4 separate regions of the Homo sapiens genome follow, and regions 2, 3 and 4 are each linked to region 1. Evidence: fine-mapped expression QTL. A gene starts in region 1. Each other region holds a variant in brackets. All regions are shown on one strand. Distances are from middle to middle.

Region 1 (8,262 bases):
ACGTCTATGGCTTTGCTGGGTACAGCCCATACAGCTGCCCATACAGGTTGGAGCCTGGTGCCTGAAGCTTTCTCAAGTAGATGTTGCATGCTGTTGGTGACTCCACAGTTCTGGGGTTCTGGTAGTGGCCCTGTTCCCACAGCTCCACTAGGCATTGCTCTGTTGGAAACTCTCTGCAGCAGCTCTGACCCTACAATTCTGCTTAACATTGCCTTAGTTGGAGCTCTCTGAAGTGCTCTGCCCTTGTTACAAGCCTTTGCCTGGACCCAGGCTTTCAGCAAAAATCCTTTGACATCTAGGTGGAGACCCCACATCTCCACAGCTCTCGCTTTCTGCAAACCTGAAGAATTATAATGGCATCATATGGATGCCATTAAGGCCTATGGTTCTCATCTTCTTGAGTGACAGGTCAATTCACACCTAAAGCTTCTTGAGCCACAGCTGGCATGTCCAAAAAGCACTGTACCAGAATTTGGGAAGTAAAGACCTGAGAGAGACCTTGGCAGCAAGCCCATGAAAGGTGCCTCATGTCTGTCTCCTGAAACCATTCTGTCCTCCTGCCTCTGGGTCTGTGATGAGAGGAACAACTCAAAGTTCTCTGAAATGCCATCGAGGTCTTTCCTTCTCGTAATGATACTTTCTTCCTTTACTAATCTCTGGAACAAAAGGTTGCTGGGCTACACCCTTGGTTTCCTCTCCCAAACACACCTTTTCACTCTTCACATGGCCAGGCTGAGAGTTTTCCAAATCTTTCCACTTTGCTTCTCTTATGATTGTAAATTCCACCTTTAAAGTTTTTTTCCCCCTCTCACAGCTTGATGTAAGTGGTTAAAAGTAGCCATGCTGCAGCCTGAATGCTTTACTGCTTAGATATTTCTTTGGCCAGATACCCCAGTTTCTCTCTCTCAAGTTCAGCCTTCCAGAAAGCCCTCAGGCATAGAACAGTTCAGCTAAGTTCTTTGCCAATTTATAACAAGGATGGTCTTTACTCCATTTTCTTGTACCTTGTTCCTCAGTTCCATCTGAGACCTTGTCAGAATGGCCTTTACTGTCCATAGTTCCATCAGCATTCTGATTATGACCATTTAACCAATTTCTAAGGAGTTCCAAACTTTCCCTGTTCTTCCTGTCTTCTCAGCCCTCACTAGAACCTAGGCTTTTTCTAGACTGCTGCTTCATTCTTGTAGCCTCTGCTCATTATCCAGTTTCAAAGCTGCTTCTCCATTTTCAGGTATTCGTTTTCGTTAACACCCCACTCCCGGTACTAATTTCTGGTCTTGTCAATTTTCTGTTGCTTAGAACAGACTACCTGAAACTAGGGTGATTTATAAAGAAATGAATTTATTTCTTACAGTTCTGGAGAATGAAAAGTCCAAGGTCAATGGGCCACCCTGCTGGTGGGGACTCTGTGCAGAGTCCCAAAACAGTGCAGGGCATCACATGGCAAGGGGGCTGAGCCTGCTAACTCAGGTCTCTCCTTCTCTTCTTATAAAGTCACTAGTCCCACTCCCATGATAACCCATTAACTCATTAACTCATGAATCTATGATTTTAGTGCCCTGAAATACTGGGAACTTAGAGAATAATAAAGAAGTAAAGTAGGAATAGGTAGATGGGGTGGAGAGGAGGAGAAAGAGAGCAGAGATTCCTTCCTTCTGACCTAGCAGACATTCCCAAGACATATGGACTTGTTCCAGTTATATATTGCTGCATAACAAATCACCTCAAAACTTAATGGCTTAAAACAACAATTTTTAATTATTATCTTCACAGCTCTGGGGGTTGGTTAGCCAGTTTTGCTCAGGGTCTCCAATGCAGTTGCAGCATCTAGAGCTAGCATCATCTCTCACTCATGTCTGGCACCTAGTCTGGGAAGATTCTAAGATCCAGGGCTAGAACAGCTGTAGCTCTTTGGTCATCTCCTTTTTTCTTTACATGGTCTTTCTGCATGGTTTCTCCAGCTTCAGGGTAGCCAAACTTCTTTTCAGGCAGCTCAAGGCTTCAAAGGTAAGTGTCCCAAGGGAGAGAGCCAAGTGCAATCTGCATTGCCTTTTCTAACCTAGTCTCAGAAGTCAAGGCAGTCACAAGTCCAATCCAGGTTTAGGGGAAGCAACAGACTCCACCTCTTGATGAGGGGTGCACCAAAGAATCTGTGGACATATTTTAAAACCACCAGAGAACTTCACACGCCTCTCTGGCAGAAAATCCAGGACAGAATAATGAGTCATTCACGAAACCACAAATTGCTTCACTGTGGTTTCCCTTTGGCTATGGGGGAATAGTGCAGTGTTTAAAGGCTCCTGCTCTGGAGTTAGGCTGCCCGGGCTTGCCTCTGCCCTAACACTTACTAAACCTGGAACCTTGAGCAGGTCTTGGTACCTCAGTTTTCTTACCTGTAAATTGGGAACAATGAGAGCTAACAGTTGTTGAGCACTTACTAGGTGTCAGACATTGTCCTAACTGCATTATGTCTGCTCTCCTTTTATATGTAAGATAACTCTATGAGGTACTTATCTATTAATACTTCCTAAGTCGTAGGATTGATAATAAAAGAGGCATCTTCCAGGTCTGTAGTGTGGATCAAATGAGACCATCTATTATGTTCGCTCTTGGCATTATTAAAGCTGTTGGGGGAAATTCTAGTGATGCCTGGCCAGTAGAGTGAGCCGTTTCCAGAAATTGACCCAACGTACACAATGCCACACAGCGTGCAGACTCTTCCCAGTACAGAGTGGGAGCCAAGATGAGGGCTGCGAGGGCCAGGTTTCTTGACAGGTGTCAAAATTTCATAAAAAGGCCAGTCATTCCGGTTCTCATTGGTGGCTATGGGTACAGAACCCGGAACAATCCTGGAGAGTGGGATTACAAGCACCGTTTTGAGTTTGCAGAAGGAGAGTGTTTATATAGCTTCTCTGGAAAAGGAAGCCATGACTCCGGGCGGTCGGAGAAGGTCTGCCGGGAGTACACCTGCCCTCTGCCTGAAGCGTCCCCAAGTGTCCCGGGCCCGCGTCGTTGCCGGATGCACAATGCTGACACCCTTCCCGGGGGCTTCCAGTGTATTCTGCCTCCTCTTGTGTTCCCGTTGCCACCCTTAGCTCCCTGACTCTTCCAGCCACCTTCCCCTCCTCCCTCTTCCCTGAGGTGCCTCCTCGGGCGATTCCAGAGCGCCCATCTTCCCAGTCCGGGCAAAACCCGGAGAGGTGGAATCCCTCGCCCGGAGCGCCCCGGCGGCCACTGGGCATGCTCCGTTGTCAGGCAAGTTCGGGGCTGCAGGCAGCTTGCGCGCCGCGCGGATTCCAGCTGCGGTCGCGCGTACTCCTCCTCCCAAGTAGGGAGCGGGCGCATGATGGCGGCCGCGGCGGCAGCGGCTGCGGGGAGCTCCAGCAGCGGCGGCGGCGGCGGCGGCAGCGGCAGCAGCAGCAGCAGCAGCGACACGTCCAGCACCGGCGAGGAGGAGAGGATGCGGCGCCTCTTCCAGACGTGCGACGGCGACGGGGACGGATACATCAGCAGGTACGCGGGGAGGTACGAGGAAACCGACAGGAGCGAGATCAGTCCCTCCGCGCGCCCTTGACCCCTGCTCTGCCCCCTCGCCCCAACTTGCGGCAAGTTGCTCAGAAGCTCGCGGGAAAAGTTGGCCGCGACTCCGAGAGCGCGTAGCCGGCTCGGCCACGAAGGCCGAGGGGACTGCTCTGTTCGCCTTGCGGGGGTGCCAGTTGGTCCAACTTTTCCCAGCGCTGTCTTTGTCTAGGCGTTGGGAGACATCTCCTTAGGATGCGCACTCTTCCGGGGGCTTGGAGTGTTCTTCCCTGTGGGAAAAGGAGTTCTGGCCGCTTGTCCCAGGTAGGAGGGGCTGCCCCACAGCCTCGGGGTCCTGGGCATCAAGATGCCGCAGCACGGGGCAGCGATCTGCCCGGCGGCTTGGTGGACACCCCAGGGCCGCACCGGGAGGAGATGAGCTAAGCGACAGCCTCGGACAGGGAAATAACCTGTGAAGAAACTTTCTTGTGCCGCAGAACCCATGAATTCCAAACTTCAGAGCCCAAAGAATGGGTATCGTTTGCCACCCAGTATTGATTTAAACGCAGTAGCCTGAGAGGAACGAAGCGCTCAGGAGCAAACTAGGGCTAGACCCGACTCCTACCCGGCTCTGTGCGCTGACCAGGTGAGCTTCGGCGTGGCTCCGGGCGCCTCCGCGCCTCCACTCACAAACAAACTTTGGGGTGTTTGCTTCGGATCCCCCGCACTTCCTACAGAGGCGGTATTTAAGCTTCCTGCCTCCCGGCTTGGCCAAATAATTACTTCTGCCCAAATTTGTGTCACTTAGACTCTTGTGGTGAAGAAGGCAATCGCAACATTTTCTGGTATGCTTCTATTGAATGGTTGACACCGGCCATTGAAGACTTGGTATCCGTGGAAATTTGAATTGCCTTGGATGAAGGAGCAGCCTAAGTTGTGCATTACATGTTTCTTTAGTCTATGTCTTGGTGATGCTAAAGATCGTTTCTGAAAATCCGGGGCTGCTTCCTGATTGTCCCTGCCTACCTAAAAAAAAAAAAAAGAAAGCAAAGTGCGGAATTTTTCCCTTAAAATAAAAAAAATTATTTATTTGGGACTCAACGCAATTTTGATCATTCTTAGGTGAATTTTTATTACTTTGCTAAAGTTTTACTGAGAAACATTAGGAAGATATCAGAAAACTTGATGGAGTAATTCTGTTCGGAAATGAAAATAATATGTAATTCTGATTGACTCCATGCAAATTTCTATCTGGAAGTCTCGTTATTTTGGTTCTGGGAGTAAAAGAAATTTCATTATATAGTTTTCCTTTTTGTTGTTTTCCTACTTGAAAGGTTATTATCTCATTTGCAATAATAAAGGCAAACTCCAACTTTGGATACAATTTTTTTTTTTTTTAGACAGAATCTCGCTCTATCACCCAGGCTGGAGTACAGTGGCGTGGTCTTGGCTCACTGCAACCTCCGCCTCCTGGTTCAAGAGATTCTCCTGCCTCAGCTTCCCGAGTAGCTGGGATTACAGGTGCCCACTACCACTCCCGGCTAATTTTCGTATTTTTAGTAGAGAAGGGGCTTCACAATTTGGCCAGGCTGGTCTCGAATTCCTGACCCTAAGTGATCCGCCCGCCTCGGCCTTAGGAAGCGCTGAGATTACAGGCCTGAGCCACCGCTCCCCGCATGGATGCAAAAAAGTTTAATTTCACACGGGCAAGAGTGCATACAGAAAACTAGCAGCGTGCTATCCTTTTCTAATTTGGCCTATTAATATATTGCTTTATCTGAACTACACTTTCTATATAAATGCTCACATTATTTTCGGTGATTCTACCCGGGAGGATAATGAATTCTGTAAGCGTAATTTGAGTAAAGTGGGTGGTGATAAAGAAGCCGTTTTGGATTAGAGTAGAAACTGGCTGGGGCAAAAGTGGAAAAAGTTGTTAACATTCCTTGAGCTGCATTACTTTAATGTGTCTGCTTAAAAGTTTCAAGGTATGTGTAGTAATGAACCCTAAATCATAACTTTAACTGTGGGTGGAGCTGCCCTGAAAATTATGCTGTGGCAGAATTGCCATGTAGGAGAAGTTTAGGGATGGCAATCTAGGGCAACAAGGAACTTGTCTGGAAGTGTGTTTACCTGGTAAGCACAGTTTTACCTGGAATTTACGTTTATGTGGTAAGACTTGGGGAATGGGGCTAATGAAGGTAAGGGGCATTAAATGATTCCCTCTCTGAAGCCACTTTTCTGTGCTGCTTTCATTTAATGACCTGTACTTACCACTCTGTAGTGGGTGATGTGGTTTGGAGGGTTGTGCATTCCTGTTCTATCAGACATGAGAGTTGGACTTTTTAACATTAAAACCTTAAAAACTTTGGATTCATCTAAAGACGTTAAATTTATGTTCCTGGTAGACAGCTGTATCTGTTAGAATTTCAGATGACTATATGTCATCACAGTAACCTAACCATAGTCAAGTAAGGGTTGGCTTTGTCACCTAGTAGAAATCTGGAGGTAGGCTATCTAGGTTGGGGCAGCAGCTCTGCGGTGGTGTCAGTCCCCAGCTACCTTCTACCTTTCTCCAACACCATTTTTCACATAAAGCATTCATCCTCATGGTTATCTCATAGTCCAAAGGTGATTGCCCTGTCTCCCTCTTCATCCCCAAATTCTAGGGAAGAAGATGTAAAAGGAAGTGGAAATAAGTTGTGCCTGTATCATTAAAGCAGAGCTTTCCCAAATCCCTTAATTGACATCTTATTGGTCAAACTACATCACTTAACCATGCCTACTTCAGTAGAGTCCGAGGAAGCATATAATTCAACTAGGCACATTACCTCCTAAACAAAATCTGGGTTCTGTTACTAAGAGCAGGAAATAGATATTGGGTGGGCAAGTAGCGGTTAATACCTATAATAAACCCCCCATCCCATGATAATCCACATTCAAGTATATTTGCTCTGGTCCTCCGCTGAACCCTCATTCTAAACAGGAGTAGGCTGGAAATCTTAAGTGTGGGGGAAGGATAAGTGGAAGAGAAACTGGGCCGTGAGGGGAAATGTCAGGGAGGTAAGGGGTGGTGCTTTGTGCTTTCAATATTCTCTTGGCCCAGTCTTCCTATCAGGCTGACAAAAAAGGCATCAGCTAACTAGATTCTTGGAATTGCTGCTTCTGCCAAGGAACTTTAGCCTATAAAAGGGACCCAGAATCATCCCCATCAATAGTTAAGGTAGAACAGAAAGCTATGATCAAGTAGCTCCAAACTGCGGCTGGGACCCCGCTGGATTTGGGCAGCAGAGTGAGACCACCGTAAGCTCTTTCAGTGCATTTCATTAACCTTACAATGACTTTACCACATATTTTATGGTACTGGATTTTTTGGACCCTGCATACCATATTATAGAAGGTGGTGGAGGTTACTCTATTTGTTGAAATTATTTTCCCTTTGGAATTTTAAAGCTTTTTGTTTTTACCGTTCAATATAAGAAACTGCTTATGTTGAACATACCTTTGACAAATATTGAAAGCCAGTGCTTAACATTTTTGAGTTCCCAAGTCTCAGCTCAAATGTTGATGCCTTAGAGAGAGCTTCCCTGACCACTATATCAAAATAGATTTGCTTTATCCTGCCGTTATTGTCCATCATAGTACTGATTGCTTTCTTTCAAAGTGCCCTTTACAACTTATAATTCCATTTCTGTTTGCTACTTTGCCTGTTTATTGTCATTCTGTCACTAAATGTAGGCTTCCTGAGGGCAGAAATCATATCTGTTTTCTCAAAAACAGTGTACTCAGTACTTAGCACAGTATCTACCATGTAGCACACAATCAGCAAATTCTGATGAAAATGTGACCAAGAATAAACAGTGGTATGTTCATGTATATTGGAAAATGTTTCAAACATTTTCATTTTCAGATATTTTCCATATTTATGTAATATTTTAAATATGTATATTTTTAACTTTTATTTTAAATTCAAGGGTACATGTGCAGATTTTTTCCATAGGTAAACTTGTGTCGTGGGGGTTTGTTGTACAGATTATTTCATCACCCATGCCTAGTACCCATTAGTTATGGGTACTAAGCCTAGTGCCCACTATAGTTATGGATACTAAGCCTAGTGCCGACTAGTTATGGGTGCTAAGCCTAGTACCCATTAGTTATTTTTCCTGATCCTCCCCCTCCTTCCAACTTCCACCCTCTGATAGGCCCCAGTGCGTGTTGTTCCCCTCTATGTGTCCATGTGTTCTCACCATTTAGCTCCCGCTTATATGTGAGACCATGTGATATTTGGTTTTCTGTTCTTGTGTTAGTTTGCTAAGGGTAATGGCCTCCAGTCCCATCCATGTCCTTGCAAAGGACGCGATCTAGTTTTTTTTTTATGACTGTGTAGTATCACATGGCATATACATACCACACTTTCTTTGTCTGGTCTATCATCAGTGGGCATTTAGGTTGAGTCCATGTCTTTACTATTGTGAACAGTGCTGCAGTGAACATACAGGTGCATGTGTCTTTATAATACAACGATTTATATTCCTTTGAGTATATACCTAGTAATGAGACTGCTGGGTTGAATGGTATTTCTGTCTTTAGGTCTTTGAGGATATGTGTATATTTTATTAAAGATATTTTTTCTTTAAAAATAACTTCTTTTGGGTTATATAAAAGATACTCTTGTTGTTGAAAATTTGGAAACATATAGAAATATACAAAAATAAGATCAAAATGATCTCTAATCCCATAACC
Region 2 (8,000 bases), 420 kb after region 1:
GCTGGGATTACATGCGTGAGCCACTGCGCCCGGCTTTTGAGTAGTTTTGAAACATGGGTTTCCCCTGCCAGGTCTCCAGGTGTCTTACGAACAAAGAAGAAGTAGTTTCACCCCCTGCTCTTGTCAGCATCACAGAATGCTCGCCCACCTCGCTTTCCTGTGCCTGTCCTTCCCCCAGCCCGGGGATCCTGTGCCCTGTTGGCCTGACCTGTACCTCGAGATCTGCACTGCCTGCTCACTTCTGTCCCTCAATTTTGAGTAAGGTGGAAGGAGTATCTAATTGGACACAAGCATGTCATTCTAGGAAGCGGCAGCATTTGCTAAAACGTGGCCAGTGATTGTGGCTCCGAGCCTGCAGTGATGTGGGGAGGACTGCAGTAGAAACAGTGCTAAGAGGAAAGAGAGACCCAAGGAGAAAGGTGGCCGTCTCTCCATGCAGAACTAAGCCCCGGACACCCCCTTAGCCTTCGGAGAGGCAATAGCAAGTAAACAGAAAGCCAAGGTGACCAGGTCTCTCCAGAGCCAAAGATGGATGGTGTGGGCAGGCCAGGCATTCCCATGTGTGGTAGCCAGGCCTCTGTCATGGACTGGATTTCTGCTGTGAGCTTCCATTAGGACTTGTCCATCCAGGACACACCCTTCAAAGAAAGTCACCATCCAGGCACCTTCTGAATGCACCTTCCTGTCCTTCTTCCCCGCTCCTCCCCCTTTGTCTGGGGGCTCACTTTTGCACTGAACACTCACATGTGTTTCCTCCTTCAGTTTCGACTTGCACAGGAATCTGAAGCAAAAGTGAAGGAAGGAAGGTATCCTGGGTGTTAATTTCCTGCTTCATATCCAAGTAATCCAACAAAGGAGCACACCTTCATTTGTATGGAGAGTGATGCTCTGATCCTCCCTCTGGTTTTTTTTAAATAGTATTACCAGCCCAGCCCAGAAGTAGAAACTCTGCCAGCATTTCCATTAGAAACCTCATTTTTCAGGGTCTTTTAACTGAACCATAAAACTTTATTTCTCATATGAAACAGATCCTAAAATGATCTTGGCCTGCTGTCAGGATTTTTTTAAATTAATATACGTATTAAGAAAAATGATAAATTAAAGGAAAAAGTCAATCGTATTTCCAGTTGGTTATCAGCGGAGTGTCTTAACCTGTTCAGGCCTCACAAGGTACCTTTCATTAGGCATGTACCTACTCAGTGCAGTTATTTGGTGTAGGAGCTGAAAGAGCTTAAATAAATCTGCCTTTTAAATATTCAAAATCAATAATGAAATGCTTTGTATTTACCTAATACTGGGAAGTTCATGTATACATTTATAATATGAGCCAGTAAGTAATGTCATGCCTAATTCCAAATAGCAGTCAGTGGTGAGATGTATGTAAAATGTCTTATTTGTGGAGAGAAGAGAGGCATGAAGTTTGTCAGAGAAATGACAGGAGGGAGTTCCAGGGATTTTTGGCCTGCAGAATGGGTCCACCCCATTTCCTGCCCACTCTCCATAGTACTGAGGGCAGGCTTGATTTTTAGCAGTTCCCCATTAAGCCTCGCCCTTGCATTCCGCTGACAGGAGTGGCTGGCCCATCATACTGTGCCATCATGCCACCCATCATGCCATAGAGCTGTTGCACAGCAAAGCAGGAACTCATTTGTGACATGCACCCACAGTATCTATGATTGTGGGTCTTTTCTTTGTTTCTTGTTGATGTCACAGGCATTCATTCTGTTCATTCTTTCATTCACAGGTGCTTTAGGCTAGTGGTTTTCAAACTGGTCTGGGAAGCTGGAGGAGTTTCTCTGGGCCTCGGCAGTGGGGTTGGAGGGTGGGACTCTGAGTGTGTCTCCCACTTCTGCCCACTTCATCCAATTCCGCATTTACCTTTTTTGTATGTTAGGATAGCATTTTCTATGATTTGGTGTAAGATTTCATTTAAAAATATTTGGAAAAGCATGGATCTGTGCTGTACAGGTAGCAAACCAGTGATTTGTTCAGCCAGCACAGTTTCTGTTTTGTTTTGTTTTATTTTTTTAAGGCTTTGTTTTTTTAGAGCAGTTTTAGGTTCACAGCAAAACTGAGAGGAAGGCACAGAGATTTCCCATATGCCTCCAACCCTCAACATGCACGGCCTCCCCCGTTTTCAGCGTCCCCCACCAGGGTAGTATATTAGTTACAAGTGATGAACCTACAGTGACACATCATCACCCAGAGCCCATAGTTTACATCAGAGTTCATTCTTGGTGCTGTACATTCTATGGGTTTGGGCCAATGTATAACAACTTGAGTCCACGGTTACAGTATCATACAGAGTAGCTTCACTGCCCCAAAAGTTCTCTGGCTCCACCTATTCATTCCTCCCCCAACCCCATCCCCTGGCAACCATTGCTGTTGCTGTTGTTCTTGTTGTTGTTTTGGAGACAGGGTCTTGCTCTGTTACCCAGGCTGTATTTGAACTCCTAAGTTCAAGCAGTCCTCCCACCTCAGCTCAGCCACCCATGATCTTTTCAATATCTCTATAGTTCTGTCTTTTCCAGCACAGTCTTAAATCACAATAGGAATGTGAACATTTTGGGCAGGGACTTCACTGCCTGGTCTGTGCGAGTGCCCACCACACCCTGATGTTCTGCACTAGCCCACTTACCTGGCTCCTGGAGGCATTTGAGTTCACGCCGATTACCAAGCCAAGAGAAGGGTCAGGGGTGGCATCGGTACCTATAATACAGAGCCAATCTAAAGCTCTCGTCTGAACCATTAGTTTTGTCTCTCTTGCCCCCACACAGGGCTCTAACCAAAGCTGTAGACATGTGGAAAGATGGCACAGTTTTGCCCTAGTTTCTCCCTCCCTCATTCACAGGGAAGTGCCAATGCACAGAGGAATGGCCAAATGGTAGACTTGTGGCTGAATGGGAGGAGAAGCCAGGAGCCTGGATCATTAGAAAAATCAGAGCGTGTTAGAGCTGGAAACAGAAATGTGGTGATCCCATTGGTTAACTCCTACACTTGTCCCTGAGGCCAGTGGAGCCCAGAGAAAGAGCAGAGAAATACCTTCCCACATGTAGCGTCTAAGTGATAGTGCCAGGCCCAGAACACAGATCTTCTCTTCGGCTGGGCACTGCCAATTCCCTTCCACAGTGCCACCTCTGCCCTAAGTAACAGAGTTAATTATGCATAGTCCCTCCCAGGCGTGCCTTGTCCAGGCCTATGTTGATTAATCCGTTGGCTTCTCTGCCACATAGGAGACCAGTCGGGGGATGAAAACATCACTCAGATGCTCAAGCGAGCTCATGACTGCCGGAAGACAGCTGAGAACGCTGCCAAGGCCCTGCTCATGAAGCTGGACGGCAGCTGTGGGGGAGCCTTTGCCGTGGCCGGCTGCAGCGTGCAGCCCTGGGAGAGCCTTTCCTCCAACAGCCACACCAGGTAATGCTCAGCCTTCTGCTCTGGGGTGGGCGTGTGTCCACATGGCATCTGTTCACTGGACTTGGTGTGCAGTGACCCAGCTCTTGGGGACTGTGTGGCTTGGGAAAAGGCAGACATGGCTTCTGGCATGCAGCCTGCTCCATCCAAAAAGGAGTCAGAAGATCAGAACAGAAGAGCTAGAAAGTGGCCCTCTCACTTTGCCAATGTGGAAACTGCAGTCGAGATTGGAGAGATTTGCTGTGGAAAGTGGTAGAGATGGAATGCAAACCTACCTTTCTGTCAGATCCATTTTCTCTGCATTGTTCTGTTCTCCATTTCTTTATAAGTCTTCATTTCCAGGAAGCACTTAGGGTAGCCAAGAGCCGTTTGCTCCAAATGGTCCCTCTGGTCCCAAGGCCCAGCCCAGCTCATCCTAGTTCCAGACATCACTCTCCTGTCTTCTTGTGCCTCCATCGTCTATAAGCTCTTCTCAGGCAAGAGCCTCTCCTCTCATCTCTTTTGCCTCATGGAATGATGCCACATTCACAGCACATGCTTACAGGCACTCAGTCATGAACCTGAGGTCAAGTTCACTGTCTGTGAATCTAGGAAATTAAAGTGGGTGCTTGAAAAAGGAAGCTAGGAAGAGAGCGGCGAAGACCTTGCAGAGCATAATTTGCTGAAGTCATTTCATTCTTTGGATGGGAGTGGAGAGTCAGAACAAAACCCTTTCTACTTACCTTCTCATTTCTTGCCACCAAAGCCCTAAAAACACGAATGCCTTCCCTTTATTTACCAGTCCTCAGTTTAGAAGACACTTTGTTAGAGATTCTTACTTAATTGCCAAATCGTGAAAGACTTGGAAGGGTAACTTACTCCATTTTCACAGGTTAGGAAACCTTGGCTCAGAGATAATGTCAGTGACCTGCCTGGTGATAAGAGGGAAACCTGGATGGGAACCCGGGATCTTAGCATCGAGCATATTGTTCTTCCCACATTGGATCTCATGACATAACAAAACAGTGTCTACTTGCAGACTAAGTGACCAGAACTGCATAAAGATAGATTGACTGTTGAGAGCCAGAGGAGAAATACTGATGCTTTCTTGGTGCTGGAAAGCAACTTAATGTTCCCCTCTCTCTTTCTCCCCTGGTGGGACCCGCCATCTACCTTAGCGCTTCCATTTACCTCTACTGGCCCAGGTGTCCCAGGAGAGGGAACATGCCCAGTAATGCACTCAGCCAGGTGCCCACAAACAAAAGGGACTTGATTCTTCTTTACTTCAGCAACAATTGTCTCATTCAGTGAAGCACAGATTATAATTTTTTTCATAAAACCATATTCTACTGTGTAAACACAGAAAGCAGATGCTCTTCTTAATGACTCTTCCAGATGTGTATAATCTATAATTTGTGTGTTTATTTAGTATAGAAATGTAGTTCTCATGTTGTCAGTGATGCTGTGTTGTTTTATTAGTGAACATAAGAGTTTGCTTGACAGGAAATGTGTGCTGTTTCAGTAGCTTATGAGGTTTGTGCTACGGATCATTTGCTCAAACCTCCCTACCC[C/G]CAAAAAGAATGTTGTGGTTTTATTCTGAATCAGAGACAAATTTAGAACCAGTCAGGAGGGAGAACAATTTTATCACCATCTATTTAGCTTTTGAATATTTGTTAGAAGTACTTGAACTTACAGGTTAGCCTTGATTTTGAGACTGTTTTCTTAGAGAAATTTAATTTGGGATCCTGTTTTTCTGCAGATTGAGATAAATTCAAAACACAGAGTCATTGTTTCCAAGGATAACCTCACCAAAGAATGGTTCTTAAATTAATTTCAGTCTCAAATGGATCTTCCCATCAAAGTACAGAGGTCTTTAGCTCCAATGTCACCCAATTCTCCTTAAAAAATCACTTTTACCCTCCCGCCCAAATCAGAGCAGCTCCGAGGATGGAAGAACCACACACGAGGCATTCATTTGTCACTCCACATTCTTAGAACCTGATGCAATTAGACTGCTTTATGTTAAACGTGGGTTTAGAATAAAGTCCCAAAGCACCAGACCCCTTTCATAATTATGATAATTATAGTAATTTTGTTTGTAAATCTTGCCATTCTGGCTCAGACATTCCCCCTTGTCAAGTTTATGAAAATAAAGAAAAGGATCTTTCTGAGTTGGAGCTTTATGTGGCCCAGCAAATCTCCTTTCCCCCCGCTGTAACCACCCAGCTTCAAGAGGTCTAATCAGAGTGTCCATCAACTGCCCCTCAAGGGTTCAGGAAAGAAACGCTGAGTATTGTGCCTCCAGCGGCATTTCTGGCAGCCCATAGGCAGCTCCTAACGACAGGAGGGTTAATGGTTTTAGAGAGGAGCAGCAGAGGGGTAGTTAACCAGCAAGGAGAATAAAAGTGATAGCCAACCCTCAGTTGACTGTTGGCAGGTGCCCAGGGTCGGTGCCACTTCATTTTTGAAAAATATAGCCATGGCCTCATCAGAAAGTATAATAGTCTTATGGACAGAGTGACTAGGTTGATTGCCTGGATGGCTTTATCAACATATCATGACAAAGAGGCACAAGGACTAAAATGTTAGGAAGTGGAAATAGGAATCCTTGGTCAAGCCCACCCTCTGTGGCAGGCCTCACAGTTCAGCTCCTTCTGTGCAGCGTAGTCATCGATCTCAATCCACAAAGGAACTGTGGCCAAGACAGGATCGGCCACAGCAAGTCTGTACTCTCAGAGACTGAAATTGAGTCCCTTGTCTCAGCACCAGGTGGGGACCCTGGAGAGCTGTGAGAATGGTGGTTGCAGCCTTGCCGTGAGCCTCTAGGTACCTCCAGGTAGCCAGGGTGCTGCCTGTGTGGCCACTCACTCTGGGGTGTAATCCCCAAGTTGGACTGGACAGCAGCAGAGCTCAAGAGATGCCTAGCTCTCACTCTTTGAACTAGTCTGGATTAAGGTAAAGTTTCATTGGGGCAGAAAAAATGGTTGAGGAGAGTGAAATCATGTCCATTGAAAGGGTGAATTTTTTGAAACAGCCACCTAGTTAGAACAGGCATCAGTAAGCTTCAGGGAATGAGAGTCAGACTAGATCTGGCTGAAACAGTCATCTTTACTGAGGAGAGGTGCTTTTCCATCTGTGTGTCAGGAGAGTCTATCCAAAGTCCTTGAGACAAACGCTTACTGGTGTTAGTGAGCTCTAGAGACCAGCCCCGACACATCCTTGACATGACAGCATTATGATCAGTCCTCCTGCTCAAATGTCCTCATCACTTACCTTTTAGGTTCTATGAGAACAAGGTATAGACATGGAATGCTTTTTATGGTTTTTTTTCTAGTGAGATCTAACTTCTTGATTTCAAAAGAACTGTATGTTTGTTGTAAAACTAAGCAATTAAAATGCCAGCATTGCAAAATGCATAGGATGGTAAAGTTCTCCATTCTAGGACTCTCACTGGAAAGGACATTGGACTGACCCCACTCATTCAGATAAATTTCAAATGCTCAGCAAAACAGATGCCCACCCCCAGGGCACTTTCCTTCTAAAAATGAGCTGCTAGGCCGGGCGCAGTGACTCACACCTGTAATCCCAGCACTTTGGGAGGCTGAGGCGGGCAGATCATGAGGTCAGGAGTTTGAGACCACCCTGGACAACATAGTGAAATCCTGTTGCTATTAAAAATACAAAATTTAGCCAGGCATGGTGGTACATGCCTGTAGTCCCAGCTACTCAGGAGGCTGAGGCAGGAGAATTGCTTGAACCCAGGAGGCGGAGGCTGTGGTGAGCCAAATCATGCTATTGCACTCCAGTGTGGGCAACAGAGTGAGACTCTGTCTCAAACAAACAAACAAACAAACAAACAAAAAGAGCTGCTCCTTGATGGAAATGAGATCTCAGCTAGGGCCAGGTAAGATGTTGATGAAAACTTCAGGAAAATGTCATCACGGATTTTCAAGGCAAAAGAAATGAAATGTCCTTCTAGCCTTCCACCAAGGCAAGCTGAGGAGGCTATGAAAAATGAATTTTTCTTCTAATGAGCAGGCTGGGGGACTGTCTTGAGGACAGAGGTGGGGCATGGTGGAGAGGGATAGAAGAGAGGATATTTGACGTCGATAGCTGGTTTGAACAGCTTCTCCTATAGTGGACAGGGTAGGTGGAGAGTGGGTCGGCCCGAACCGTCCCGAACCAGCCAGCCCCGCATTCCCACCAGGCTACAGGCCTGCTGTGTATGCTTTGTGCTGGAAGAGCTGCTGGCAATGAACAGATGCAGAGGAAAGCCAGCGTGACGGGAGCTCCAGCAGAGCATCACGGAAAGGAGAAACCCACACATCCTAGACTAGCTCCTCAAGAAGCCAGAGCAAGACACACATGTGTGGCGAGGGTTTTTGTCATTAGCCTTCCCCCACAGTCGCTCTCAGAGAACACAGACAGGCTCCTGTTCTGGAGAGGAGGAATAATGCAGCCACAGAAAGTGATTGATTCCCCCTTGACAACTGAGATCATCCAGCATTCCAAGCTGGGAGAATTAATGGATGACTTAACCCTTGCCCAGCAGCCAGCAGCAGGCCCTTGGGAGACCGCCAGCGCCTTTGTCTGTGAGGCCAGAGAAA
Region 3 (8,000 bases), 430 kb after region 1:
TGTTGTATAAATTATTTTGTCACCCAGGTATTAAGCTTCGTATGCATTAGTCATTTTTTCCGATCCTCTCCCTTCTGCTATTCTGTACCCTCAAGTAGGCCCATTGTTTGTTGTTCCCCTCTTTGTGTTCATGTGTTCTCATCATTTAGCTCCAACTTATAAGTAAGAACATGTGGTATTTGGTTTTCTGTTCCCACATTAGTTTGCTAAGGATAATGGCCTCCCGCTTCATCCATGTTTCTGCAAATGACATGACCTCATTCTTTTTTTATGGCTACATAGTATTCGTGGTATATATGTGCCACATTTTCTCTATCTAGTCTACCACTGATGGGCATTTAGGTTGATTCCATGTCTTTGCTATTACAAACACTTCTAATTTTACCTCATTTATTCCTTACCCTGACTTTATGAAGCAGGTACTATGATTACCTTCATTTTAGAGATGAGAAGACAGGGAATATTCAAAGTATGTAAGACGCTTGGGTCACACGTAAAGGTAGCACTTTGCTCTTAGGGCATTGCAGAGAATCAGAACCAATAGGAGGTGGGTCTATATGGAGACATCTATACCTAGATAGAAAGATCAAGATCGATCTCTTGATATAGATTCTAGTAAATCGCAAACAGTGATTTATTTTAAGGAATTGGCCCATTTGATAATGGAGCTGGCAAATCTGAAGTCTGCAGGTCAGGCTAGAGACCCAGGGAAGAGTTGATGTTGCCATCCTGAGTCTGAAAGCTGTCTGGAGGAAGAATTTTTTCCCTTTTGGGGGACCTGTCTTTCCCCTTAAGGCCTCTCTGATTAGACGAGGTTCACTCACTGTATGGAAACAGTCTCCCTGTAGTCTCTTGATTTTAATGGTAATCACATGTAACAAACACCTTCGCAGCAATGCCTAATCTGGTGGTTGACCAAGCAACTGCGCACATAGCCCAGCCCAGCTGACGTGGGAACTTACTGGGCATAGCCTCTGAAGAGATGGTGTTTAATGGTCAGGCTGATCTAGCTTACCTTATCTCCAAGGGACTTCCCACCCGTCCTGATGGTACAGAGGGAGTGAGACGCAGCCCCAAAGGGTTTCTAGTGCTCAGGAGTTTCCCATTCTAGAAGGGGTTCTCTGACTTGAAGACCACCCCAAGCCCTAGGGTAGCCTCTTCCTCCTGTGAACAGCAAAGCTCCAGCCACCATCTCTCTTCAGCTTTTCTCTCCCCGGAAGCCTTGTCTTCGTAGCAATGTGTCATGTACAAGAGTGGGCCTGCCCTCACTCATGTCTAGGCTGTGGGGACTACAGCTACTGAGTTGGGGTCCTGGCTCTTACCCTTTTGCAGTGTGAGATGAGGAGGGCAGGCCTGGGTTTGTGGCATCTGGCGGCCTGTGGAGATCACTCGTGGCCCCTGGTATAGCTTCTAGCTACAGGATTCTGGGGACAAGGACAGGGCTGTGGGACGAGGCTGCGGCCCAAGTCTAGTTGCACCTCTTTCCAGTCGCATGACTCGGCTGACCACTTGATGTCTCTGAGCTTCACTTTCCAAATCTGTAGCAACAGACATGACAACACAGCCTGGCCTGTTTTGATGCAAGGTCAGTAGGCCTCTGCTTTTTCCTCTGCCATCTTCAGACCAGTTCCATGAGGGGCGAGTCACCCCTAGGGAGGCCCAGTGCAAGTGCAGAGAAACTGCTGTCGGTGCACACTGGCCTCAGAGTCCTCAACCGAGTGGAGTGGGCCTTATTCGGAGGCACGGGGAGCAGCCTGCCCACTGCTGGAAAAGGCCAGAGCCCACTTGAAAGCCGTGGCCTCCGTTTTCCAGTGGTGCTCCCCCTTTCATGGTGGTTTGGTCCCCTAGAAACCTTCCTGGGCTGCCACAGGCCTGGGGTTCAGCTGGGGGCTCCCTGCCTGGTCACCATTCACCTTGGGCTGCCAAGGGCCCTTGGGCCAGCCCGAGTCCCTATAGTGAACACTATACTCAGACTATCCTGTGAAGGCCAGGGGGTACCCTACTCCCAAAGTGGTTATTGCTGTGTTGTGCACCCCTGTGTTTTTCATGGTACATGTTGCAAACAACAGAAGTAAACACAGCAAAACAGCCCCCTTCGGTGCTGCTCCGCAGGGACGGCTGCCACAGCCTGGGACACCTGCGTACACGTGCGAGGGTGTGACACGCATCTGTGGATCATGCCATAGGAGTTTTGTGCTTCAACTTTTGTTGCCTTAAATATACCTTTTTTAAGTTCTGACCACATGAGTATCTTTTTTATTACATATATAATATCTTTTAACCTATGTCCTCAAAATATCACCACCATTGTCGATATCACTATAATTTCACTTATTACAATTATCACTGTAATGTCCACATGATTTCCCTCCTTTTGATAGGTGTGATAAATCACTAAACTGTATTTTAGATTATGTTCCTTTGTATGTGTATCTTTTTGCTTCTGTGGAATTATTTCCTTAGAAATTCATTTCTAGAGTCCACAGTGTTGCGTCAAGGAGTGTAAGCATTTGTTATTCTTCATACTTAATTCTTTCCTAAAAGGTGGTATCATTTTCCTATGCTGTGAAGAAAACTGATTTTTGGATTACCATCTAAATAACACTGGGGAGAGGGAATGTGGAGAAGAGTGAGGAGGAAAGATCTATTTGCCATGACTTGGAATAACACAGGGTGGTGGGTCTTTGTTTTTCTTCTTTCTCAGCACAACCAGCTCCACAGCCAGTAGTTGCGACACCGAGTTCACTAAAGAAGACGAGCAGAGGCTGAAGGATTATATCCAGCAGCTCAAGAATGACAGGGCTGCGGTCAAGCTGACCATGCTGGAGCTGGAAAGCATCCACATCGATCCTCTCAGCTATGACGTCAAGCCTCGGGGAGACAGCCAGAGGCTGGATCTGGAAAACGCAGTGCTTATGCAGGAGCTCATGGCCATGAAGGTATGTGGTGGGTGGGTCCCATGTGCTAGGCTGCCACCAGGAGGAAATCTAAACAACCTCTGAAAGCAGGTCCAGCAGATAAGGAGGAATCAACCCCTCCTGCCCAGAGAAGAGCTAGACCCTTGTTTATAGACAGAGCTGGTTTCACTATGTCTGGGGGTCACTTGGGCTGCGTGTTTCTGGACAGGGGAGTTGAATTTCTAAGGGATTTCTCAGGGTGTCCCAGCCCAACTTTGGAGCCCTTCATCCTCTAAGAGAAGCCAGGTCAGACCTCTGCAGGGTGGAGCCTCTGTCCATCTAAATTGACCCCTAATCTCAAGAATGCTTGGAAATATGTCTTGGGTTGCTGATGCTGATGTTAACTCCGGCAGGGGGAGAACAGGGTGAGGCCAGTTGTAGAGTTTGGCCGAGAGCCCTAGTTTCCTGACACCCTGTACCTTTGGTGCAATGTCGAGCCTGCTCAGACCATAGTGCCCTCCAGTGAAGGTGTACAGTGCTGTTGAGGTCAGTGTTTCAGTGGATCTGAAACACTGGGCCCTTCAGCTGCTAGTGGAGATACCTACCTGCTGGTATTTCTACAGAAGGGAGCTTTCTTGGAAAGCTGGTGTCCCCTACTGGGAAGTAGTTAAACCGCCATACCTACAACAAGACATCACTTTGCCTGTTTCTGGTGTGGAATGCCAGGCACCAGCCCTTCACCTGGTACCTGCTCTTACAAGGCAGCTGTGGTATAAATAAGACCATATCTGATATTTGTCCTTGGTTTTGGGACAGAGTTTGAGAAACCCTTGGAGTTTCTTGCTGAGCTAGGGGTGTCTTTGTGATGCTGATGAGGTGACTTATGGTGGGCCCTAGACAGCTTCAGAATGTGGGCTGGTCACCAGAAGGACCAGGCGTGTGTTGGAGGATTGGGACTTTCAGCCACCTGACCTCCGGGGAGGGGAAGAGAGCCAGAGATTGAGTTTAGGACCGGTCAGGAACTGGAGTCTAGCAAGCCAGAGCAGGTCGTGGCAGTGCAGAGTTAATGGCTCCTATTAGGATCAGTACTGTCCGCAGCAGGGAGAAAAACAACCCCCTGGTCGCACCATCTCTGGAGAGTGGAGGGGAGCTGGCAACAGCAGCCATCCTGACACCCTCAGGGGTGACTCACTCAGCACAGCCCTGTCCTTGGGAGCTTCTTGAGCTAGAATCTGGGC[G/A]AAGTTTGGGAAGACACTAGGCAGTGGTAACAGATACAGGAATCTTACCTCCCACCCCCACCCCCATGATTTCCAAACTGGCTCATCTTCATCAAGCCACGCAGCTCCCATCCTGACCTCTCTGTAGAGAATCCTCATGCTGCTTTGGCTGATTCCACCTCTCATTGCTTATGAGCTAGACTTGGGTCCATCATTGTAGCGACTTTTCCCCCAACTGGGAGCCCTGTTTGCAGATGCTTGCAGCCTGTGGCACGAGCTATGAGGCCACCCTTCCATCATTTGTTCCAAACATTGTGTTTCTTTTGGCCAAAGACTAAGGATTTCCTTTTTAAAATTGGCCAACGTGGGGTGATAAATTTACTGGTATTCTACCTAAGAAAGACATTTTTGTTGGAATAAAAGTTCTAATACTCCCTTTGCCACTTGAAAATAAAATGTGTACTGATCTTAGAAATTTTCTAAAAAAGTAGAAAAGCTGGGAGGAGAACAATCCATAATATCATGATCCAGGGCAGCCATTGCTAGCATTCTGGCTTGGTTCCCTATGACTTTCTTGAAGGCTAAATATCAGAGCCGTCCCCTTTTCCTCTGAGTCCCTCCCAGTCTGCTTGGGGATGTGTGCTCACCCATACCAAATCCATTATCCAGCAGGTTACGTTGGATTTTCACCAGTTTCTAGGATCCAACTGCTGAGAAATTCAAATTTCTGTTTTTGTAATACCTTTTCATTTCTAGATGATGTGCTTGGTTCCTTTTCAAATCCATTCTTCTTTTTGTTGTTGTTTGTTTGTTTGTTTGTTGTTTTGAAACAGGGTCTCACTGTGTTACCCAGGCTGGAGTGCAGTGACACAGTCATGGCTCACTATAGCCTCGCCCTTGGGCTGGAAGTGATCCTCCTGCCTCAGCCTCCCGAGTAGCCGGGACTACAGGAATGCACTGCCCTACCCAGCTGACTTTTTAAGTTTATTTTTTTGTAGAAACAGGGTCTCACTTTGTTGCCCAGGCCAGTCTCAAACTCCTGGGCTCAAGTCATCCACCCAGGTCAACCTCCCAAAGTGCTGGGATTACAGATGTGAGGCACCAGGCCTGGCCTTCTCTTCCTTTTTGAACATCTTATCCCTTCATTATGACTCCTGTATCACTTTGTTTTAAATCTTTATTTTCTAGTTTTGCACATTGTTATTTCTGCTTCTTGTAAATGCTGACTCTTACTTTTTGCATCCGCTCATTCTTCGTCAGTGCTGATTCATTCTCATTTCCTCGGTGGTGGGGGTAGGGGGAGAGAATGCAAGCACCAGCTCATCCTCTGTGGAAACTGTCTTCCGTGGGGCCCTGAGGATCCTGGGTTGCAGATGTCCCTACAGAGTGGTTCTATGTTTAGATCTGTTGGGACTCATCAGTTTCTGAGGTTTAGGACTAGTTGTTATTAAGTTCTTGGCTCTGGATTCCTGTACCACACCTACACATGACACAAGCTTGAGGTTTAATTCCTGGAAAGAGATTTTTCTTTCTTTTCCCACACAGAGCCTGAGAGATGACAAGTTTACTTGTCACATCTCCAGAAAGGAAGTTTCCTAGTGTCTTATGGGCAGCCTGATGAGAATCCTGCTCCCGTAGGGGTCTGAGCTGTGGCTCTCTGCCTCAGAGGCCACGGCCCTGGCCTTGGGTAATGTTAAGCCCCCGGGTGGAGGGCCTGAGGACAGTCTGACGCCTTGCTGGCCAGCACCTGCCCTCCTTGCCGTTCTCTCTGGCAGAGTTCCCTCTTCATTTCTGGCACCCATAGGTTTCTCTTTCCCTCTTTCAAGCCTGCACTTATATGTTTGTTCTGGAAGCGACCATCACATTAGCTCAGTATGCAGTGTTGCCAGAACCTTCAGAATCCTGCTTCCAATGGCAAAAGATCCGAAGGCTCTGGGCGTGGCACACCTTTCATTCTGGCTTTTATGTCTGATATTTAGGGTAAAGAAGGTTGGCATGTTCTGAGTAGTTTACTGAGCATATTGACTAATGTCCCTTTCGAGGGGTGTCCTCTACCCATTTCCCCACATTTGAGAGTGAAAACATCTACCCCCTAGTCCAACTTACCCAGGAGAGTGCACCAGGCCTGTGGTTTATTACCTCAGAAGGGTGACTTCGGGGGTTGTGAGAATCTGAACTAACCTCAGGTGAGTCCATCTCACGGTGGGCTGGGAAGGCTGGACCTGGTGGCCATGGGCTGGTGGAGTTACTCTCCAGCAGAAGTGCGGGGACAAGAGTCATGCGTGGGCTCACCTTGAAAGGGAGGGAGGCAGTATAGCTCTGAACCAGACAGCTTGGCTGCAATCTGTGGCTCCACAGCTTACCCAGTAGCCATAAGCAGGGGGATTTCCTTCTGTGTGCCTCAGTTTCCCATCTGTCAATGGAGATAGTTGCAATACCTAACCCAGGTTGGGAAGATGAAATGAGCCACGTCATGTGAACACTTAGCACAGTGCCACGTGCTCAGTAAAGGCTACTGGCTGTCATTGTTACTGGCTCCTGGTCCCAGGATGGCACTGTCCTATTTTGGATTCACTTCGTATTCTCCACTCATCGCTCTCATTTGAGTTCTTAGGATACTTTTAGAAGTTGTCTGATGAGCAGTCACCTGTGAAGGATGCTGTTTCTATTGATTTCATTTGGGCCCTGAGAAGTAGGCAAGAGCTGGAGGTTGATGCTGCTGCAGGCATTCGCCGCATGCCTGGCCCAGCTACAGGGCAACAGAGGTGCCGTGGGTGTGATTAAACATGTGGTTGGTGCCATGGAAACCAAAATGGGAATTGGAAGGGGCTTGGCCAGAAGAGGCCTTCCATGGATAGGTGACTTTACAGCCTCTGGCAGGTGCAGCTCAGCCTCTGCAGACCAGAGAATGGGTTTCCATCAAGGCCCATGTGCCTGAGTGGGGGCTCTATTTGTTAGAAAGGTTTTCCCTATATTGAACCACAATCTTGCCTGTAACTTCTACCCTTCTGTCTCAGGTCTAGTCCATAGACTGACAAAGTGCATGGCCTTGTCCATACGTCATTCCTTTAGAAGTGTGGTGACAGGTGCCACGTCTCCTCCCACTCATCCTACTGCCAACTTCAAAGTGAGAACTCTACCATGGGCCTGTGGGTCATAGCCGGGGACCCCCCACCCACCCACTTGGCAGCAGCCAGGCCTGCTCTCAGATAGGGCATGCCTCATGTGCTCTGTGCTCCTTTGTCTGTAGGAGGAGATGGCCGAGTTGAAGGCCCAGCTCTACCTACTGGAGAAAGAGAAGAAGGCCCTGGAGCTGAAGCTGAGCACGCGGGAGGCCCAGGAGCAGGCCTACCTGGTGCACATTGAGCACCTGAAGTCCGAGGTGGAGGAGCAGAAGGAGCAGCGGATGCGATCCCTCAGCTCCACCAGCAGCGGCAGCAAAGACAAACCTGGCAAGGTAGGGCCGGAGTGGCTTGGGGACACCCTTAGGCTCAGTGACTGCCCAGTGACTGCCCAGTGACCACTGGCCACACCTCACCGCCCTGCTGCCTCAGTTCTTGTATTTGCATAGGAAATGCAGGCCATTCGTAGGTATCTAAGAAGGTGACATTTTGAGTGTAATGAAACCAGGTCTACATTTTAGAAATACCAAATCTCACTTTATGTAATAGTTGAACCTTTTCACATATCACAGTCACATCAGAGGGGTGATCTCTGCAGTTGTCCACTGATACTGTTCTCACCTCCTTCGTCTAATCCTCTGTCACACGGCAGCCCTCATTTGTTGGTTTATTGGTATAATAGGGCCCCCTTTATCCACAGGTGATATGATCCAAAATCCCCCATAGATGCCTGAAACCACAGGTAATACTGAACCCTTATATAT
Region 4 (8,000 bases), 270 kb after region 1:
TCCCCAGGCAGGAAGGGGAATTGTTTTGGGAAAGGGCTGTTATCATCTTCGTTTCAAAGCTAAACCATAAACTAAGTTCCTCCCAAAGTTAGTTTGTCCTGTGCCCAGGAATGGACAAAGACAGCTTGAAGGTTAGAAGCAGATGGAGTTGGTTAGTTCAGGTCTCCTTCACTGTCTCAGTTACAATTTTTGCAAACGTGGTTTCACCCAGACTGGGATAAATGCAAGCACATCTGTGTTCACCACTTCTTTTCTCTTATTTTCTTTTATGACAGCGTCTCACTGTGTCACCCAGACTGGAGTGCAGTGGCACGATCACGGCTCACTGCAGCCTTGACTTCCCCAGCTCAGGTGATTCTCCCACCTCAGTCTCCTGAGTAGCTGGGACCACAGGCATGTACCACCATACCTGGCTAACTTTTTGTATTTTTGGTAGAGACATGGTTTTGCCATGCTGCCCAGGCTGGTCTTGAACTCCTGGGCTCAAGCAATCCACACGCCTTGCTCTCCAAAAGTGCTGGGATTATAGGCATGAGCCACCATGCCCGGCCTCACTGCTTCTTTTCTTTTAGTATTAGGTGCCAACTAAAAGTGTTCACCACGTCTGTTCAACATTGCACTAGATGTTCTAGCCAGTGCAGTAAGGCAAGGAAAAACAATAAAAGGCTTCCAGATCTTAAGAGGGAAATGTAAAAATTTCTTTATTCAAAGATAACATAACTGTCTGTGTAGAAAATCCTACGGTATCTACAAAGAAAACTGTTTTGTTAGGACTAATAAGTGAATTTTACATGGTTACAAGATACCAAGGAAATACAGAAAAATCCATTATATTTCTGTATTCTAGTAATGAACAATCAGAAATTGAAATTCTAAAACAGTATCATAATCTGTCAAAAATATGAAATACTTAGAGATAAATTTGACAACAGATGTGCAAGATCGTGCACTAAAAAATACAAACATTAATAAAAGAAATGATCTAAATAAATGGAGCAAGCTGCTGTATTCATAGATCAGAAAACTCAATGTTGCTATGATATAAATTCTCTCAATTGATCTATAGATCTCAATTAAAATCTCAGCAGACATTTCAGTAGAAATTGACATGCTGGCCGGGCGCAGTGGCTCACGCCTGAAATCCCAGCACTTTAGGAGGCCGAGGTGGGTGGATCATGAGGTCAGGAGATCGAGACCATCCTGGCTAACACGGTGAAACCCTGTCTCTACTAAAAAATACAAAAAAATTAGCTGGGCGTGGTGGCGGGCGCCTGTAATCCCAGCTACTGAGGAGGCTGCGGCAGGAAAATGGCGTGAACCCGGGAGGTGGAGCTTGCAGTGAGCCGAGATTGCGCCACTGCACTCCAGCCGGGGTGACAGAGCAAGACTCCGTCTCAAAAAAAAAAAAGAAAAAGAAATTGACATGCAGATTCCAAAGTTAACATGGAAATGTAAAGGACTTTTATTAGCCAAATTAACTTAGAAAAAGAATGAACCCGGAGGATGTATACTATCTAATTTCAATAAGGGGTTGGCACTGACCGGGAGGATGTTGTGAGTCACATTTATTTGTACCAAGTTGGTTGGGTGTGTGGTATACAGTAGAAAATGGCATAGGAAAAACATTAGTGGGAGTCATTCTGAAGGCCAGGTTGGACTGGATGAAGAGGAATCAATATTCTCTTTATAGCACTCCTCTAAACCTTGTCCACTGTGGTTGAGGGACATGAAATTTAGCCTTTAACATAGTTTCTGGCCTGCTGGGACTTTAAGAAAACAAACCTCACTTTATTATGGAAAGTTTCAGCCATATACAAAAGTAGAGAAAATCGGTATAAGGGAATTCATTATACGGTCCTCCAACTGGGACCTATTATTGAAATTTTAAAGCAATGATTATAGACTATCAATAATATACTATTACTAACGTAATACAAAATCATCTATTTTTGAGATCCTGTTTTAACATCACCTTTTTTCAAATAAGCTATTAGGAAAATAAAAACATGTTAACACCAGCTTTTTAGATACATTTGTGGTTAAACATAGCAGCTGATCATTGAATTTTAATTGCTGATTCTTAATGCTACTGACTTTTTATTGGAAGTCCTCACAGGAGTTCAGGGCCCCCCAGGAAGGGCCTCCAGAATTCATTGCCAAGGGCCGTTTCCTTTAACCTTCCTGTGTACAGAGACTGCACGGCACCTCCCAAACAATAGCTTCCAAACTTATTTGGTAACAGAACTCTTTGTTCAAATGAAATCTTCAGCACCCCAACATTTAAAACAACCCAAAAGGAAAAGCAGCGAACTTGTTATTATCTTCTCGGGTGTTTTATTCTGGGTTTAACAGCCAATATTTTATTGTTTGTAGAAACCTGGAAACACTCTCGAGAGCCAGAGGACAGTTTGAAACCTGCTGTTTTACTGCATTTCTCTGTTATATCAGGAATTTAAAAAATTTCTTTTTTTAGACTCTTCACCTTTACTCCCATTCAAAACCAAAACAAAACACGGATTTCATATTATCCATACGATGTTGAGAATTTCTGTGGATATTCTTCTACATTATTTCAAAAGCTATTCTTATAATGCGTCCCCTTCTATTCGGAAGAATAGTTATTAATTTACATCTTTTATTTTGAAAGTAACTAAAAATTTAAAACTGAGGATTTTTTTCCCCAAGTCTATCTTGCACAAAAGATATTGCCAACATCATGTGCAAATCAAAGCCTTGTGAACACATTATTTTAAATGCCTGAGAGGATATTTATATTCTAAAATCTGTATTGAGTTCCATTTGTAATGTGAAAAAACAGCTCTGAGACTTATTTGCTTTTCTTGTTTAACATTTTTTAACTCGCATAAATTGAAATACACCCGTACTTTGGTGTTATGAAGTTCATTTCTACCTCTGGGCATTGTCTCATTAGTTGCACTTGTGGGATTTGTAGTGAAGGAGGAGAAAACCCTAATACACTTAACTGATTATTCTGACCCACCTTCTGCCCTCCTGGTTGAGCGGGCGGTAATGTCAGGAACAAGGAGGAGAAAGCGGAGGCACTCAGCAGATCACAGGTGCCCTTTACCCTTGCCTGACATTCAGCTCTGCCCAGCCCCCAGCCCGAAAGCCCAGTGACAAAAATACCAGCCAATCTCAGGAAGCTGCAGACGTTAGAGACGTGAAAGAATAAAACTATTGAAGGCCAGGGCATGAAAGCTCCTACCCAGCACACATTTAGAGTTATTTATCCTAGCTGAGGCGATAAGCCAATGTCGCTTGTCGCCAGTGCTCGTGAGTAAGAGAAGCTGGGTAAAGGGCTCCCCCACCCCCCCACTCTCCATACTCCCCCCAGTTTCCCACCTCACCCCCACCCCCGTGCAACCATCCTTCTGGCTTCTTAAGAGCCAGATGCTCACTTAGGATTTCTGGCTTCTTTCTAAACTAAACTATTTACAGTGTCTGGTCAGCATGGGACAGATCAAACTGCAGAAAATACTGAGAAATTCTGTTTGGGATATGTGCGGCACACTTCCTCAGTCCCCGAAAATGTGTTGGAAGAGGAAAGGAACATACAGGCGTGGTGTGCACACTCATGTGCTCATGTCCTTTCTGACCTCTCAGTGTTTCTCTTGTCTCCTGGGATTAGATAGGACAGCATTTTCATGAGAAGTGCTCACTGGGCTCTGCCTGA[G/A]TTCTCCGGTTTCACTCCAAAAGATAAACGACAGCACCCTGGCCATCCGTCATAGTCATGTCATGCAACCGGAGCATCAGATTAGGGGCACAGGTGGAAGGCAGAGTTTGCCCTGATTAGCTTGGAGCCCCACTTTCCTCCTTGATTCCCAGCTCCTCCAAAAATTTTCATACACGAGTGGGATCTGTTTTTTACTTTTTGCTAAATGTGTTGGTATTACTCCCTGTTTTTGTTTTGATGCATACAAAACTCAAGTATCTCTGTTCTAGCCCCCATGTACTTACCTTTAAAGAAAGATGAAGTTTTGTATGTACATTAGCTTAGAAAATAATATCTTTGCAGTAATAAGGCTATAAAAAATCAACTTAATATTGTCCTTTTGATTATCAAAATGTCTACTCTTCAAAATGTGTGCATTACATTCCAAGCTATGTGCTATAGCTGAAAAAACAAATTATGGTAAATTCTATCAGGAAAAGACAATTTACAGAACAGTTTGTTGATGCTTCAATTTAGTATCACCACTAGTGCTTTTTAACCAATGAATCTTTATGGGAGAGAGAGAGAGAAGCTCCTCCTTTGGAGTTTGGTCTTTTATCTTGAAGGATTAGTATTAATATAAGACCTAGCTGCTTGTTTTCATAATTTAAAATATGAAACTACCACCTGAATCAGGGCTCCTGCTATGAAAAGATCAAGTGTGATGCTATAACATAGCTGAGACGACCCTAGCCATGTTCATTGTCAGTGTACTTGGAGCCTTAAGGCAGAAGACTTTGTCCATAGTAATAATTGTTTCTACTTATTGAGCACCAAAATTGCTTGACAAAGGTAGTGGGCATTTTACACATATTATTGGTTTCATAGCCACCCTGTGAGATAGAGGAATTATTTCATTGTCTTCGTTTTGCAGAGGAGGCAACTGAGAGTGAGCACCTTAACTAAGATCCTACAGCTAGTGAACGGGAGTCAGACTTTCAACCCTTATCCTAGTGGGAAATCCCCTATTCGGGGTTTCTACTTTGTCACCCATCTATAGGCAAGTCAAAACTGATACAAAAGAATAGAAATTTCATCAGTTGAATGACTGTGTTCTCACCAAGGGACTATGGCTGAGCCTTTAAATATAGTCATTTTGTCAGGAGCCTTTAAATATAGTTATTTTAAAAATACCTTGTAAACACTCATCTACCTAGTTAACATTTTTTGATGGCTACTGTGTGCCTGTCACTGTGCTGAATTATGTCTGTAAGACATGGGCCTTGTCCTCAAGGAGCCACGTCTGTTGGGGAAGACAAAAATGCTTACAGATTATTTATACTATAGGTCACTGATGGAGGGATGTTCAGGGGCCATGGGAACCATCTTAGAAAGACAAAGAACGTGTCAGGTTAAAAAGCAGACTGACAGAATCCTGGGGAGCTAGTGTTCCTAGGACTTCTTATACCTTCATTGGGCAGCAGAATAACAAGAGCCTGTCCAGTCACAGTCACAAAGGTAGGAAGGAAACCCATAAGTTATAATAGGTAGGGCAAGGGTTGGCAGACATTTTCTGTAATGGACCAGGCAGAAAATATTACAGTTTTTGCAGGGTATATGGTCTCTGGTGCAATTTCTTAATTCTGCCATTTTTGCAGCAAAAGCAACCATAGGCACTATGTAAATAAAGGGGGCATACCTATGTTCCAATAAAACTTTATTCACAAAAACAGGTAGAAGGTCAGATTTTGCTCATGGGCCATAGTTTCCTGACCTCTGGAACAGGGAAAGGAGAAGGGCTTGCCATCAAACAAGATATAACTGAGAAACAACAGTTTTGATTGAACAACAAAGCGATTGGTGGTTTCTTTGAGAGATCAGAGTGTGGTCATTCCAGCCCCTACTGAGTGTAGGCATTTACTAAATATTTGTAGAATGACTAACTAATGGCTTCAACTTGGCCTGGAGATAGTAACTGAGGCTCTCTCGTAGTGAAGGGAGAGGTAATGGGATACCAGAAACTAGTCAACTAATAAAGAACAGAAAGTTATTTATTATTTCTGGAAGCTGGGAACGTCCAAGATCATTGCGCCGGCAGGCTTATTGTCTGCTGAGGTTCTGATCTCTGCTTCTAAGAGGGCTTGGATGCTGCATCCATTGGAGGGGAAGAACACTGTGTCCTCACTTGATGGCAGGCAGAAGGGCAAGTCAGCCGAACCGCCCTCCCCCGCCAGCCCATGAACCGTCTTTTATAAGAGCCTTAATCCCATTCATGAGGGCAAAAGCCCTCATAACCTAATCACTTCCCAAAGACCAACCCCCACCCTTAACCACTATCACATTGGCCACTGAGTTTCAATACCTCAATTTTGAAGGGTGCAGTATTCAAACCATAGCCAGCACTATGCTAAGGACAAAGATACACAGGTAAACAAGTCATACTTGAGATCCTTTTTTCAACAGATATTAAGAAACATCTCTTAAGGTTCCATTCTAATCTCCCTTTCCTCCCCCCACCAAGTTGTCTGAAGTCTAGTAGAGGAAATAGACAAGCTATTATACCAAGCAACTAAAATACAGTGTAGTTGAACATGGAAGTCTGACAGCAGAGACCTAAAGAGGATGCATTCACCTCTGCCTAGGGTTGTCAGCAAAGGCTTCTGGAGGAAGTGATAGCTGAGCCCAAACTTAAAGGGCTGGCAGTAGCCAGCCAAGTAAAGGGTAAAGGGGGTGGTGGGAGAGATGAGGATTGTGTTCCAGGTAAGGGAAATGGGGATTGTGTTCCAAGTAAGGGAAATGGTTTGTGTGCAAAGCCCCAAGGGCAGGGTTGAGCATGGGGATTTGGAGGTTCAGCCTCACTGCAGGTTTTCCAGTAAGGCTGAACCAGGTGCCAGTAGAGCATGGGGAAGGTAGAAGGGGTTACAAATGGCATTGCAATGTGGGCTTTATCCTGATGGCAATGAGGAGCCATTGTCTGATATTTTTTACATGGAGAATGGGCAGGCCACCACATGAAACTTGAGCTTTAGAAGGTGCGCTTGGCTACAGTGTGGAAAATGGCTTGGAGGGTGTTGAGATTAGAAGTGGTAAGAACAATTAGCAGATCCAAGTGATCTGGGAGGAGGATGCTGATGACTTGAACTGAGTGAGTAAAGTTGGAGTGGTGTAGAGCTGCAGAAGCCTTTAGGCACTGATACTGATAAGGCTGGGGCTTGGATGAAGAAGCAGAAGGAGTCAAGAAACAAACCTAGCCTGCTATAGGATCTCATGCCCTCCTATGATCTAGTACACATCACTTTACATTTTAAGTATTTATCTCTTAGATTCTCAAGTTTGCCTATAAGCTACTCAAGGATCTACCATTGTTCCATGGCACCCAGTATAGGAGCGCAGCGAATGAACACGCAAGGCAACTCAGTTCATGGAGTTTGATTAAACAGAGTTTGTGAATGTGGTGGAGAAAGGATCTCTGGGCAGAGGACTGAGCATGTGGTAGTGTCTCCCCACTGGGATGTGGCCTGGTGGTTGAGTGGGGCTGTTTCTCAGCTCCGTCGTTCTTTGTGGCTTTGAAAGCAGCACCAGGGGAATGAGAGGAGGGCATTGGCCGTAGCCCAGGATGCTTTTCATGGCTGAAGTTGGAGCTGCTCAGTGTGTGGCCTTGGATTTTTGTTAATTCACACCATTGTGCGTGACCTTGTATTTTAAGTCCGGAATATGGGGACAGGGGTGGGAGGAGGGAAATGAGAGAGACAATAATACTATTGCAAAAAACATCAGTCCTACAAATTCTGGACTTGGCTGATTGGGTCCCTCATGTTGTGTTCTTTGCATTAGGAATGAGGAGGACTTAGGAAGTGGAGAAAAAAAATAAATGATGCACCCTGCAGGGAAATTCTTTAGTGCTGAAAAGGACTTAAGGATTAGCTGATTTGTCTGTCCTCTTTCGGACAAAGTAGCTTTGGGTAAGTGAATTACAGAATTCTGAGTGACAGAGGCAACAAAGGGAAGTTGTCATTCACTGTGAGTGGGTATGAAAGAGAACACGTGTCAGGAATTAGAAACCAACCTTACTTTTTAGGCAGGCAGCTTCAGAAACAGGGAAGTAGAGCTACTGTGCCCACCACTCTCAGTACTGAAAAGAGCCCTGAGCTTGCCTTTTCTCTCTTACCCGCGTGCTTTGACGTGAGGTTGTCAAAGCCGCTTGTCAGTGTAGCCAGTCAGCCTTTCATCATTAAGGGTCCAAGCAGTCTTCAGGTTATGTCGTTGTTCTCTTTTATGACTAAATATTTTTATTAGGACACTGCTTGCTGTGAACTGCCTGAAGGGT

Direction of the effects. Positions count from the first base shown, and alleles are read on the strand shown. Sizes are in standard deviations (SD) of each study's normalised expression. Not every link is listed here.
For the expression in skeletal muscle of the gene that starts at base 3,305 in region 1, allele A in region 4 goes with a lower level than allele G (small effect, 0.39 SD a copy in GTEx).

The links.
Region 2: its variant is fine-mapped to the expression of MCC in blood mononuclear cells (TOPMed, PIP above 0.99). The same link has a PIP of 0.9 or more in whole blood.
Region 3: its variant is fine-mapped to the expression of MCC in whole blood (INTERVAL, PIP above 0.99).
Region 4: its variant is fine-mapped to the expression of MCC in skeletal muscle (GTEx, PIP above 0.99).

The regions. Positions count from the first base shown.
Region 1 is chr5:113,483,496-113,491,757 of GRCh38, reverse strand. MCC (MCC regulator of Wnt signaling pathway) reads left to right here and starts at 3,305. Exons shown (of 19, transcript NM_001085377.2): 1 at 3,305-3,513. The coding sequence starts at 3,344. RefSeq lists an enhancer at 3,112-3,406.
Region 2 is chr5:113,059,401-113,067,400 of GRCh38, reverse strand. It overlaps MCC (MCC regulator of Wnt signaling pathway), which reads left to right. Exons shown (of 19, transcript NM_001085377.2): 14 at 3,234-3,417. Among named protein-coding and RNA genes, the nearest start is that of DCP2, 87 kb to the right of the region's middle. The variant C/G (reference allele first, on the strand shown) is at 4,965.
Region 3 is chr5:113,048,664-113,056,663 of GRCh38, reverse strand. MCC (MCC regulator of Wnt signaling pathway) reads left to right here. Exons shown (of 19, transcript NM_001085377.2): 15 at 2,705-2,939; 16 at 7,365-7,571. Among named protein-coding and RNA genes, the nearest start is that of DCP2, 76 kb to the right of the region's middle. The variant G/A (reference allele first, on the strand shown) is at 4,136.
Region 4 is chr5:113,213,472-113,221,471 of GRCh38, reverse strand. All of the region lies in intron 3 of MCC (MCC regulator of Wnt signaling pathway), which reads left to right. Among named protein-coding and RNA genes, the nearest start is that of TSSK1B, 220 kb to the left of the region's middle. The variant G/A (reference allele first, on the strand shown) is at 3,695.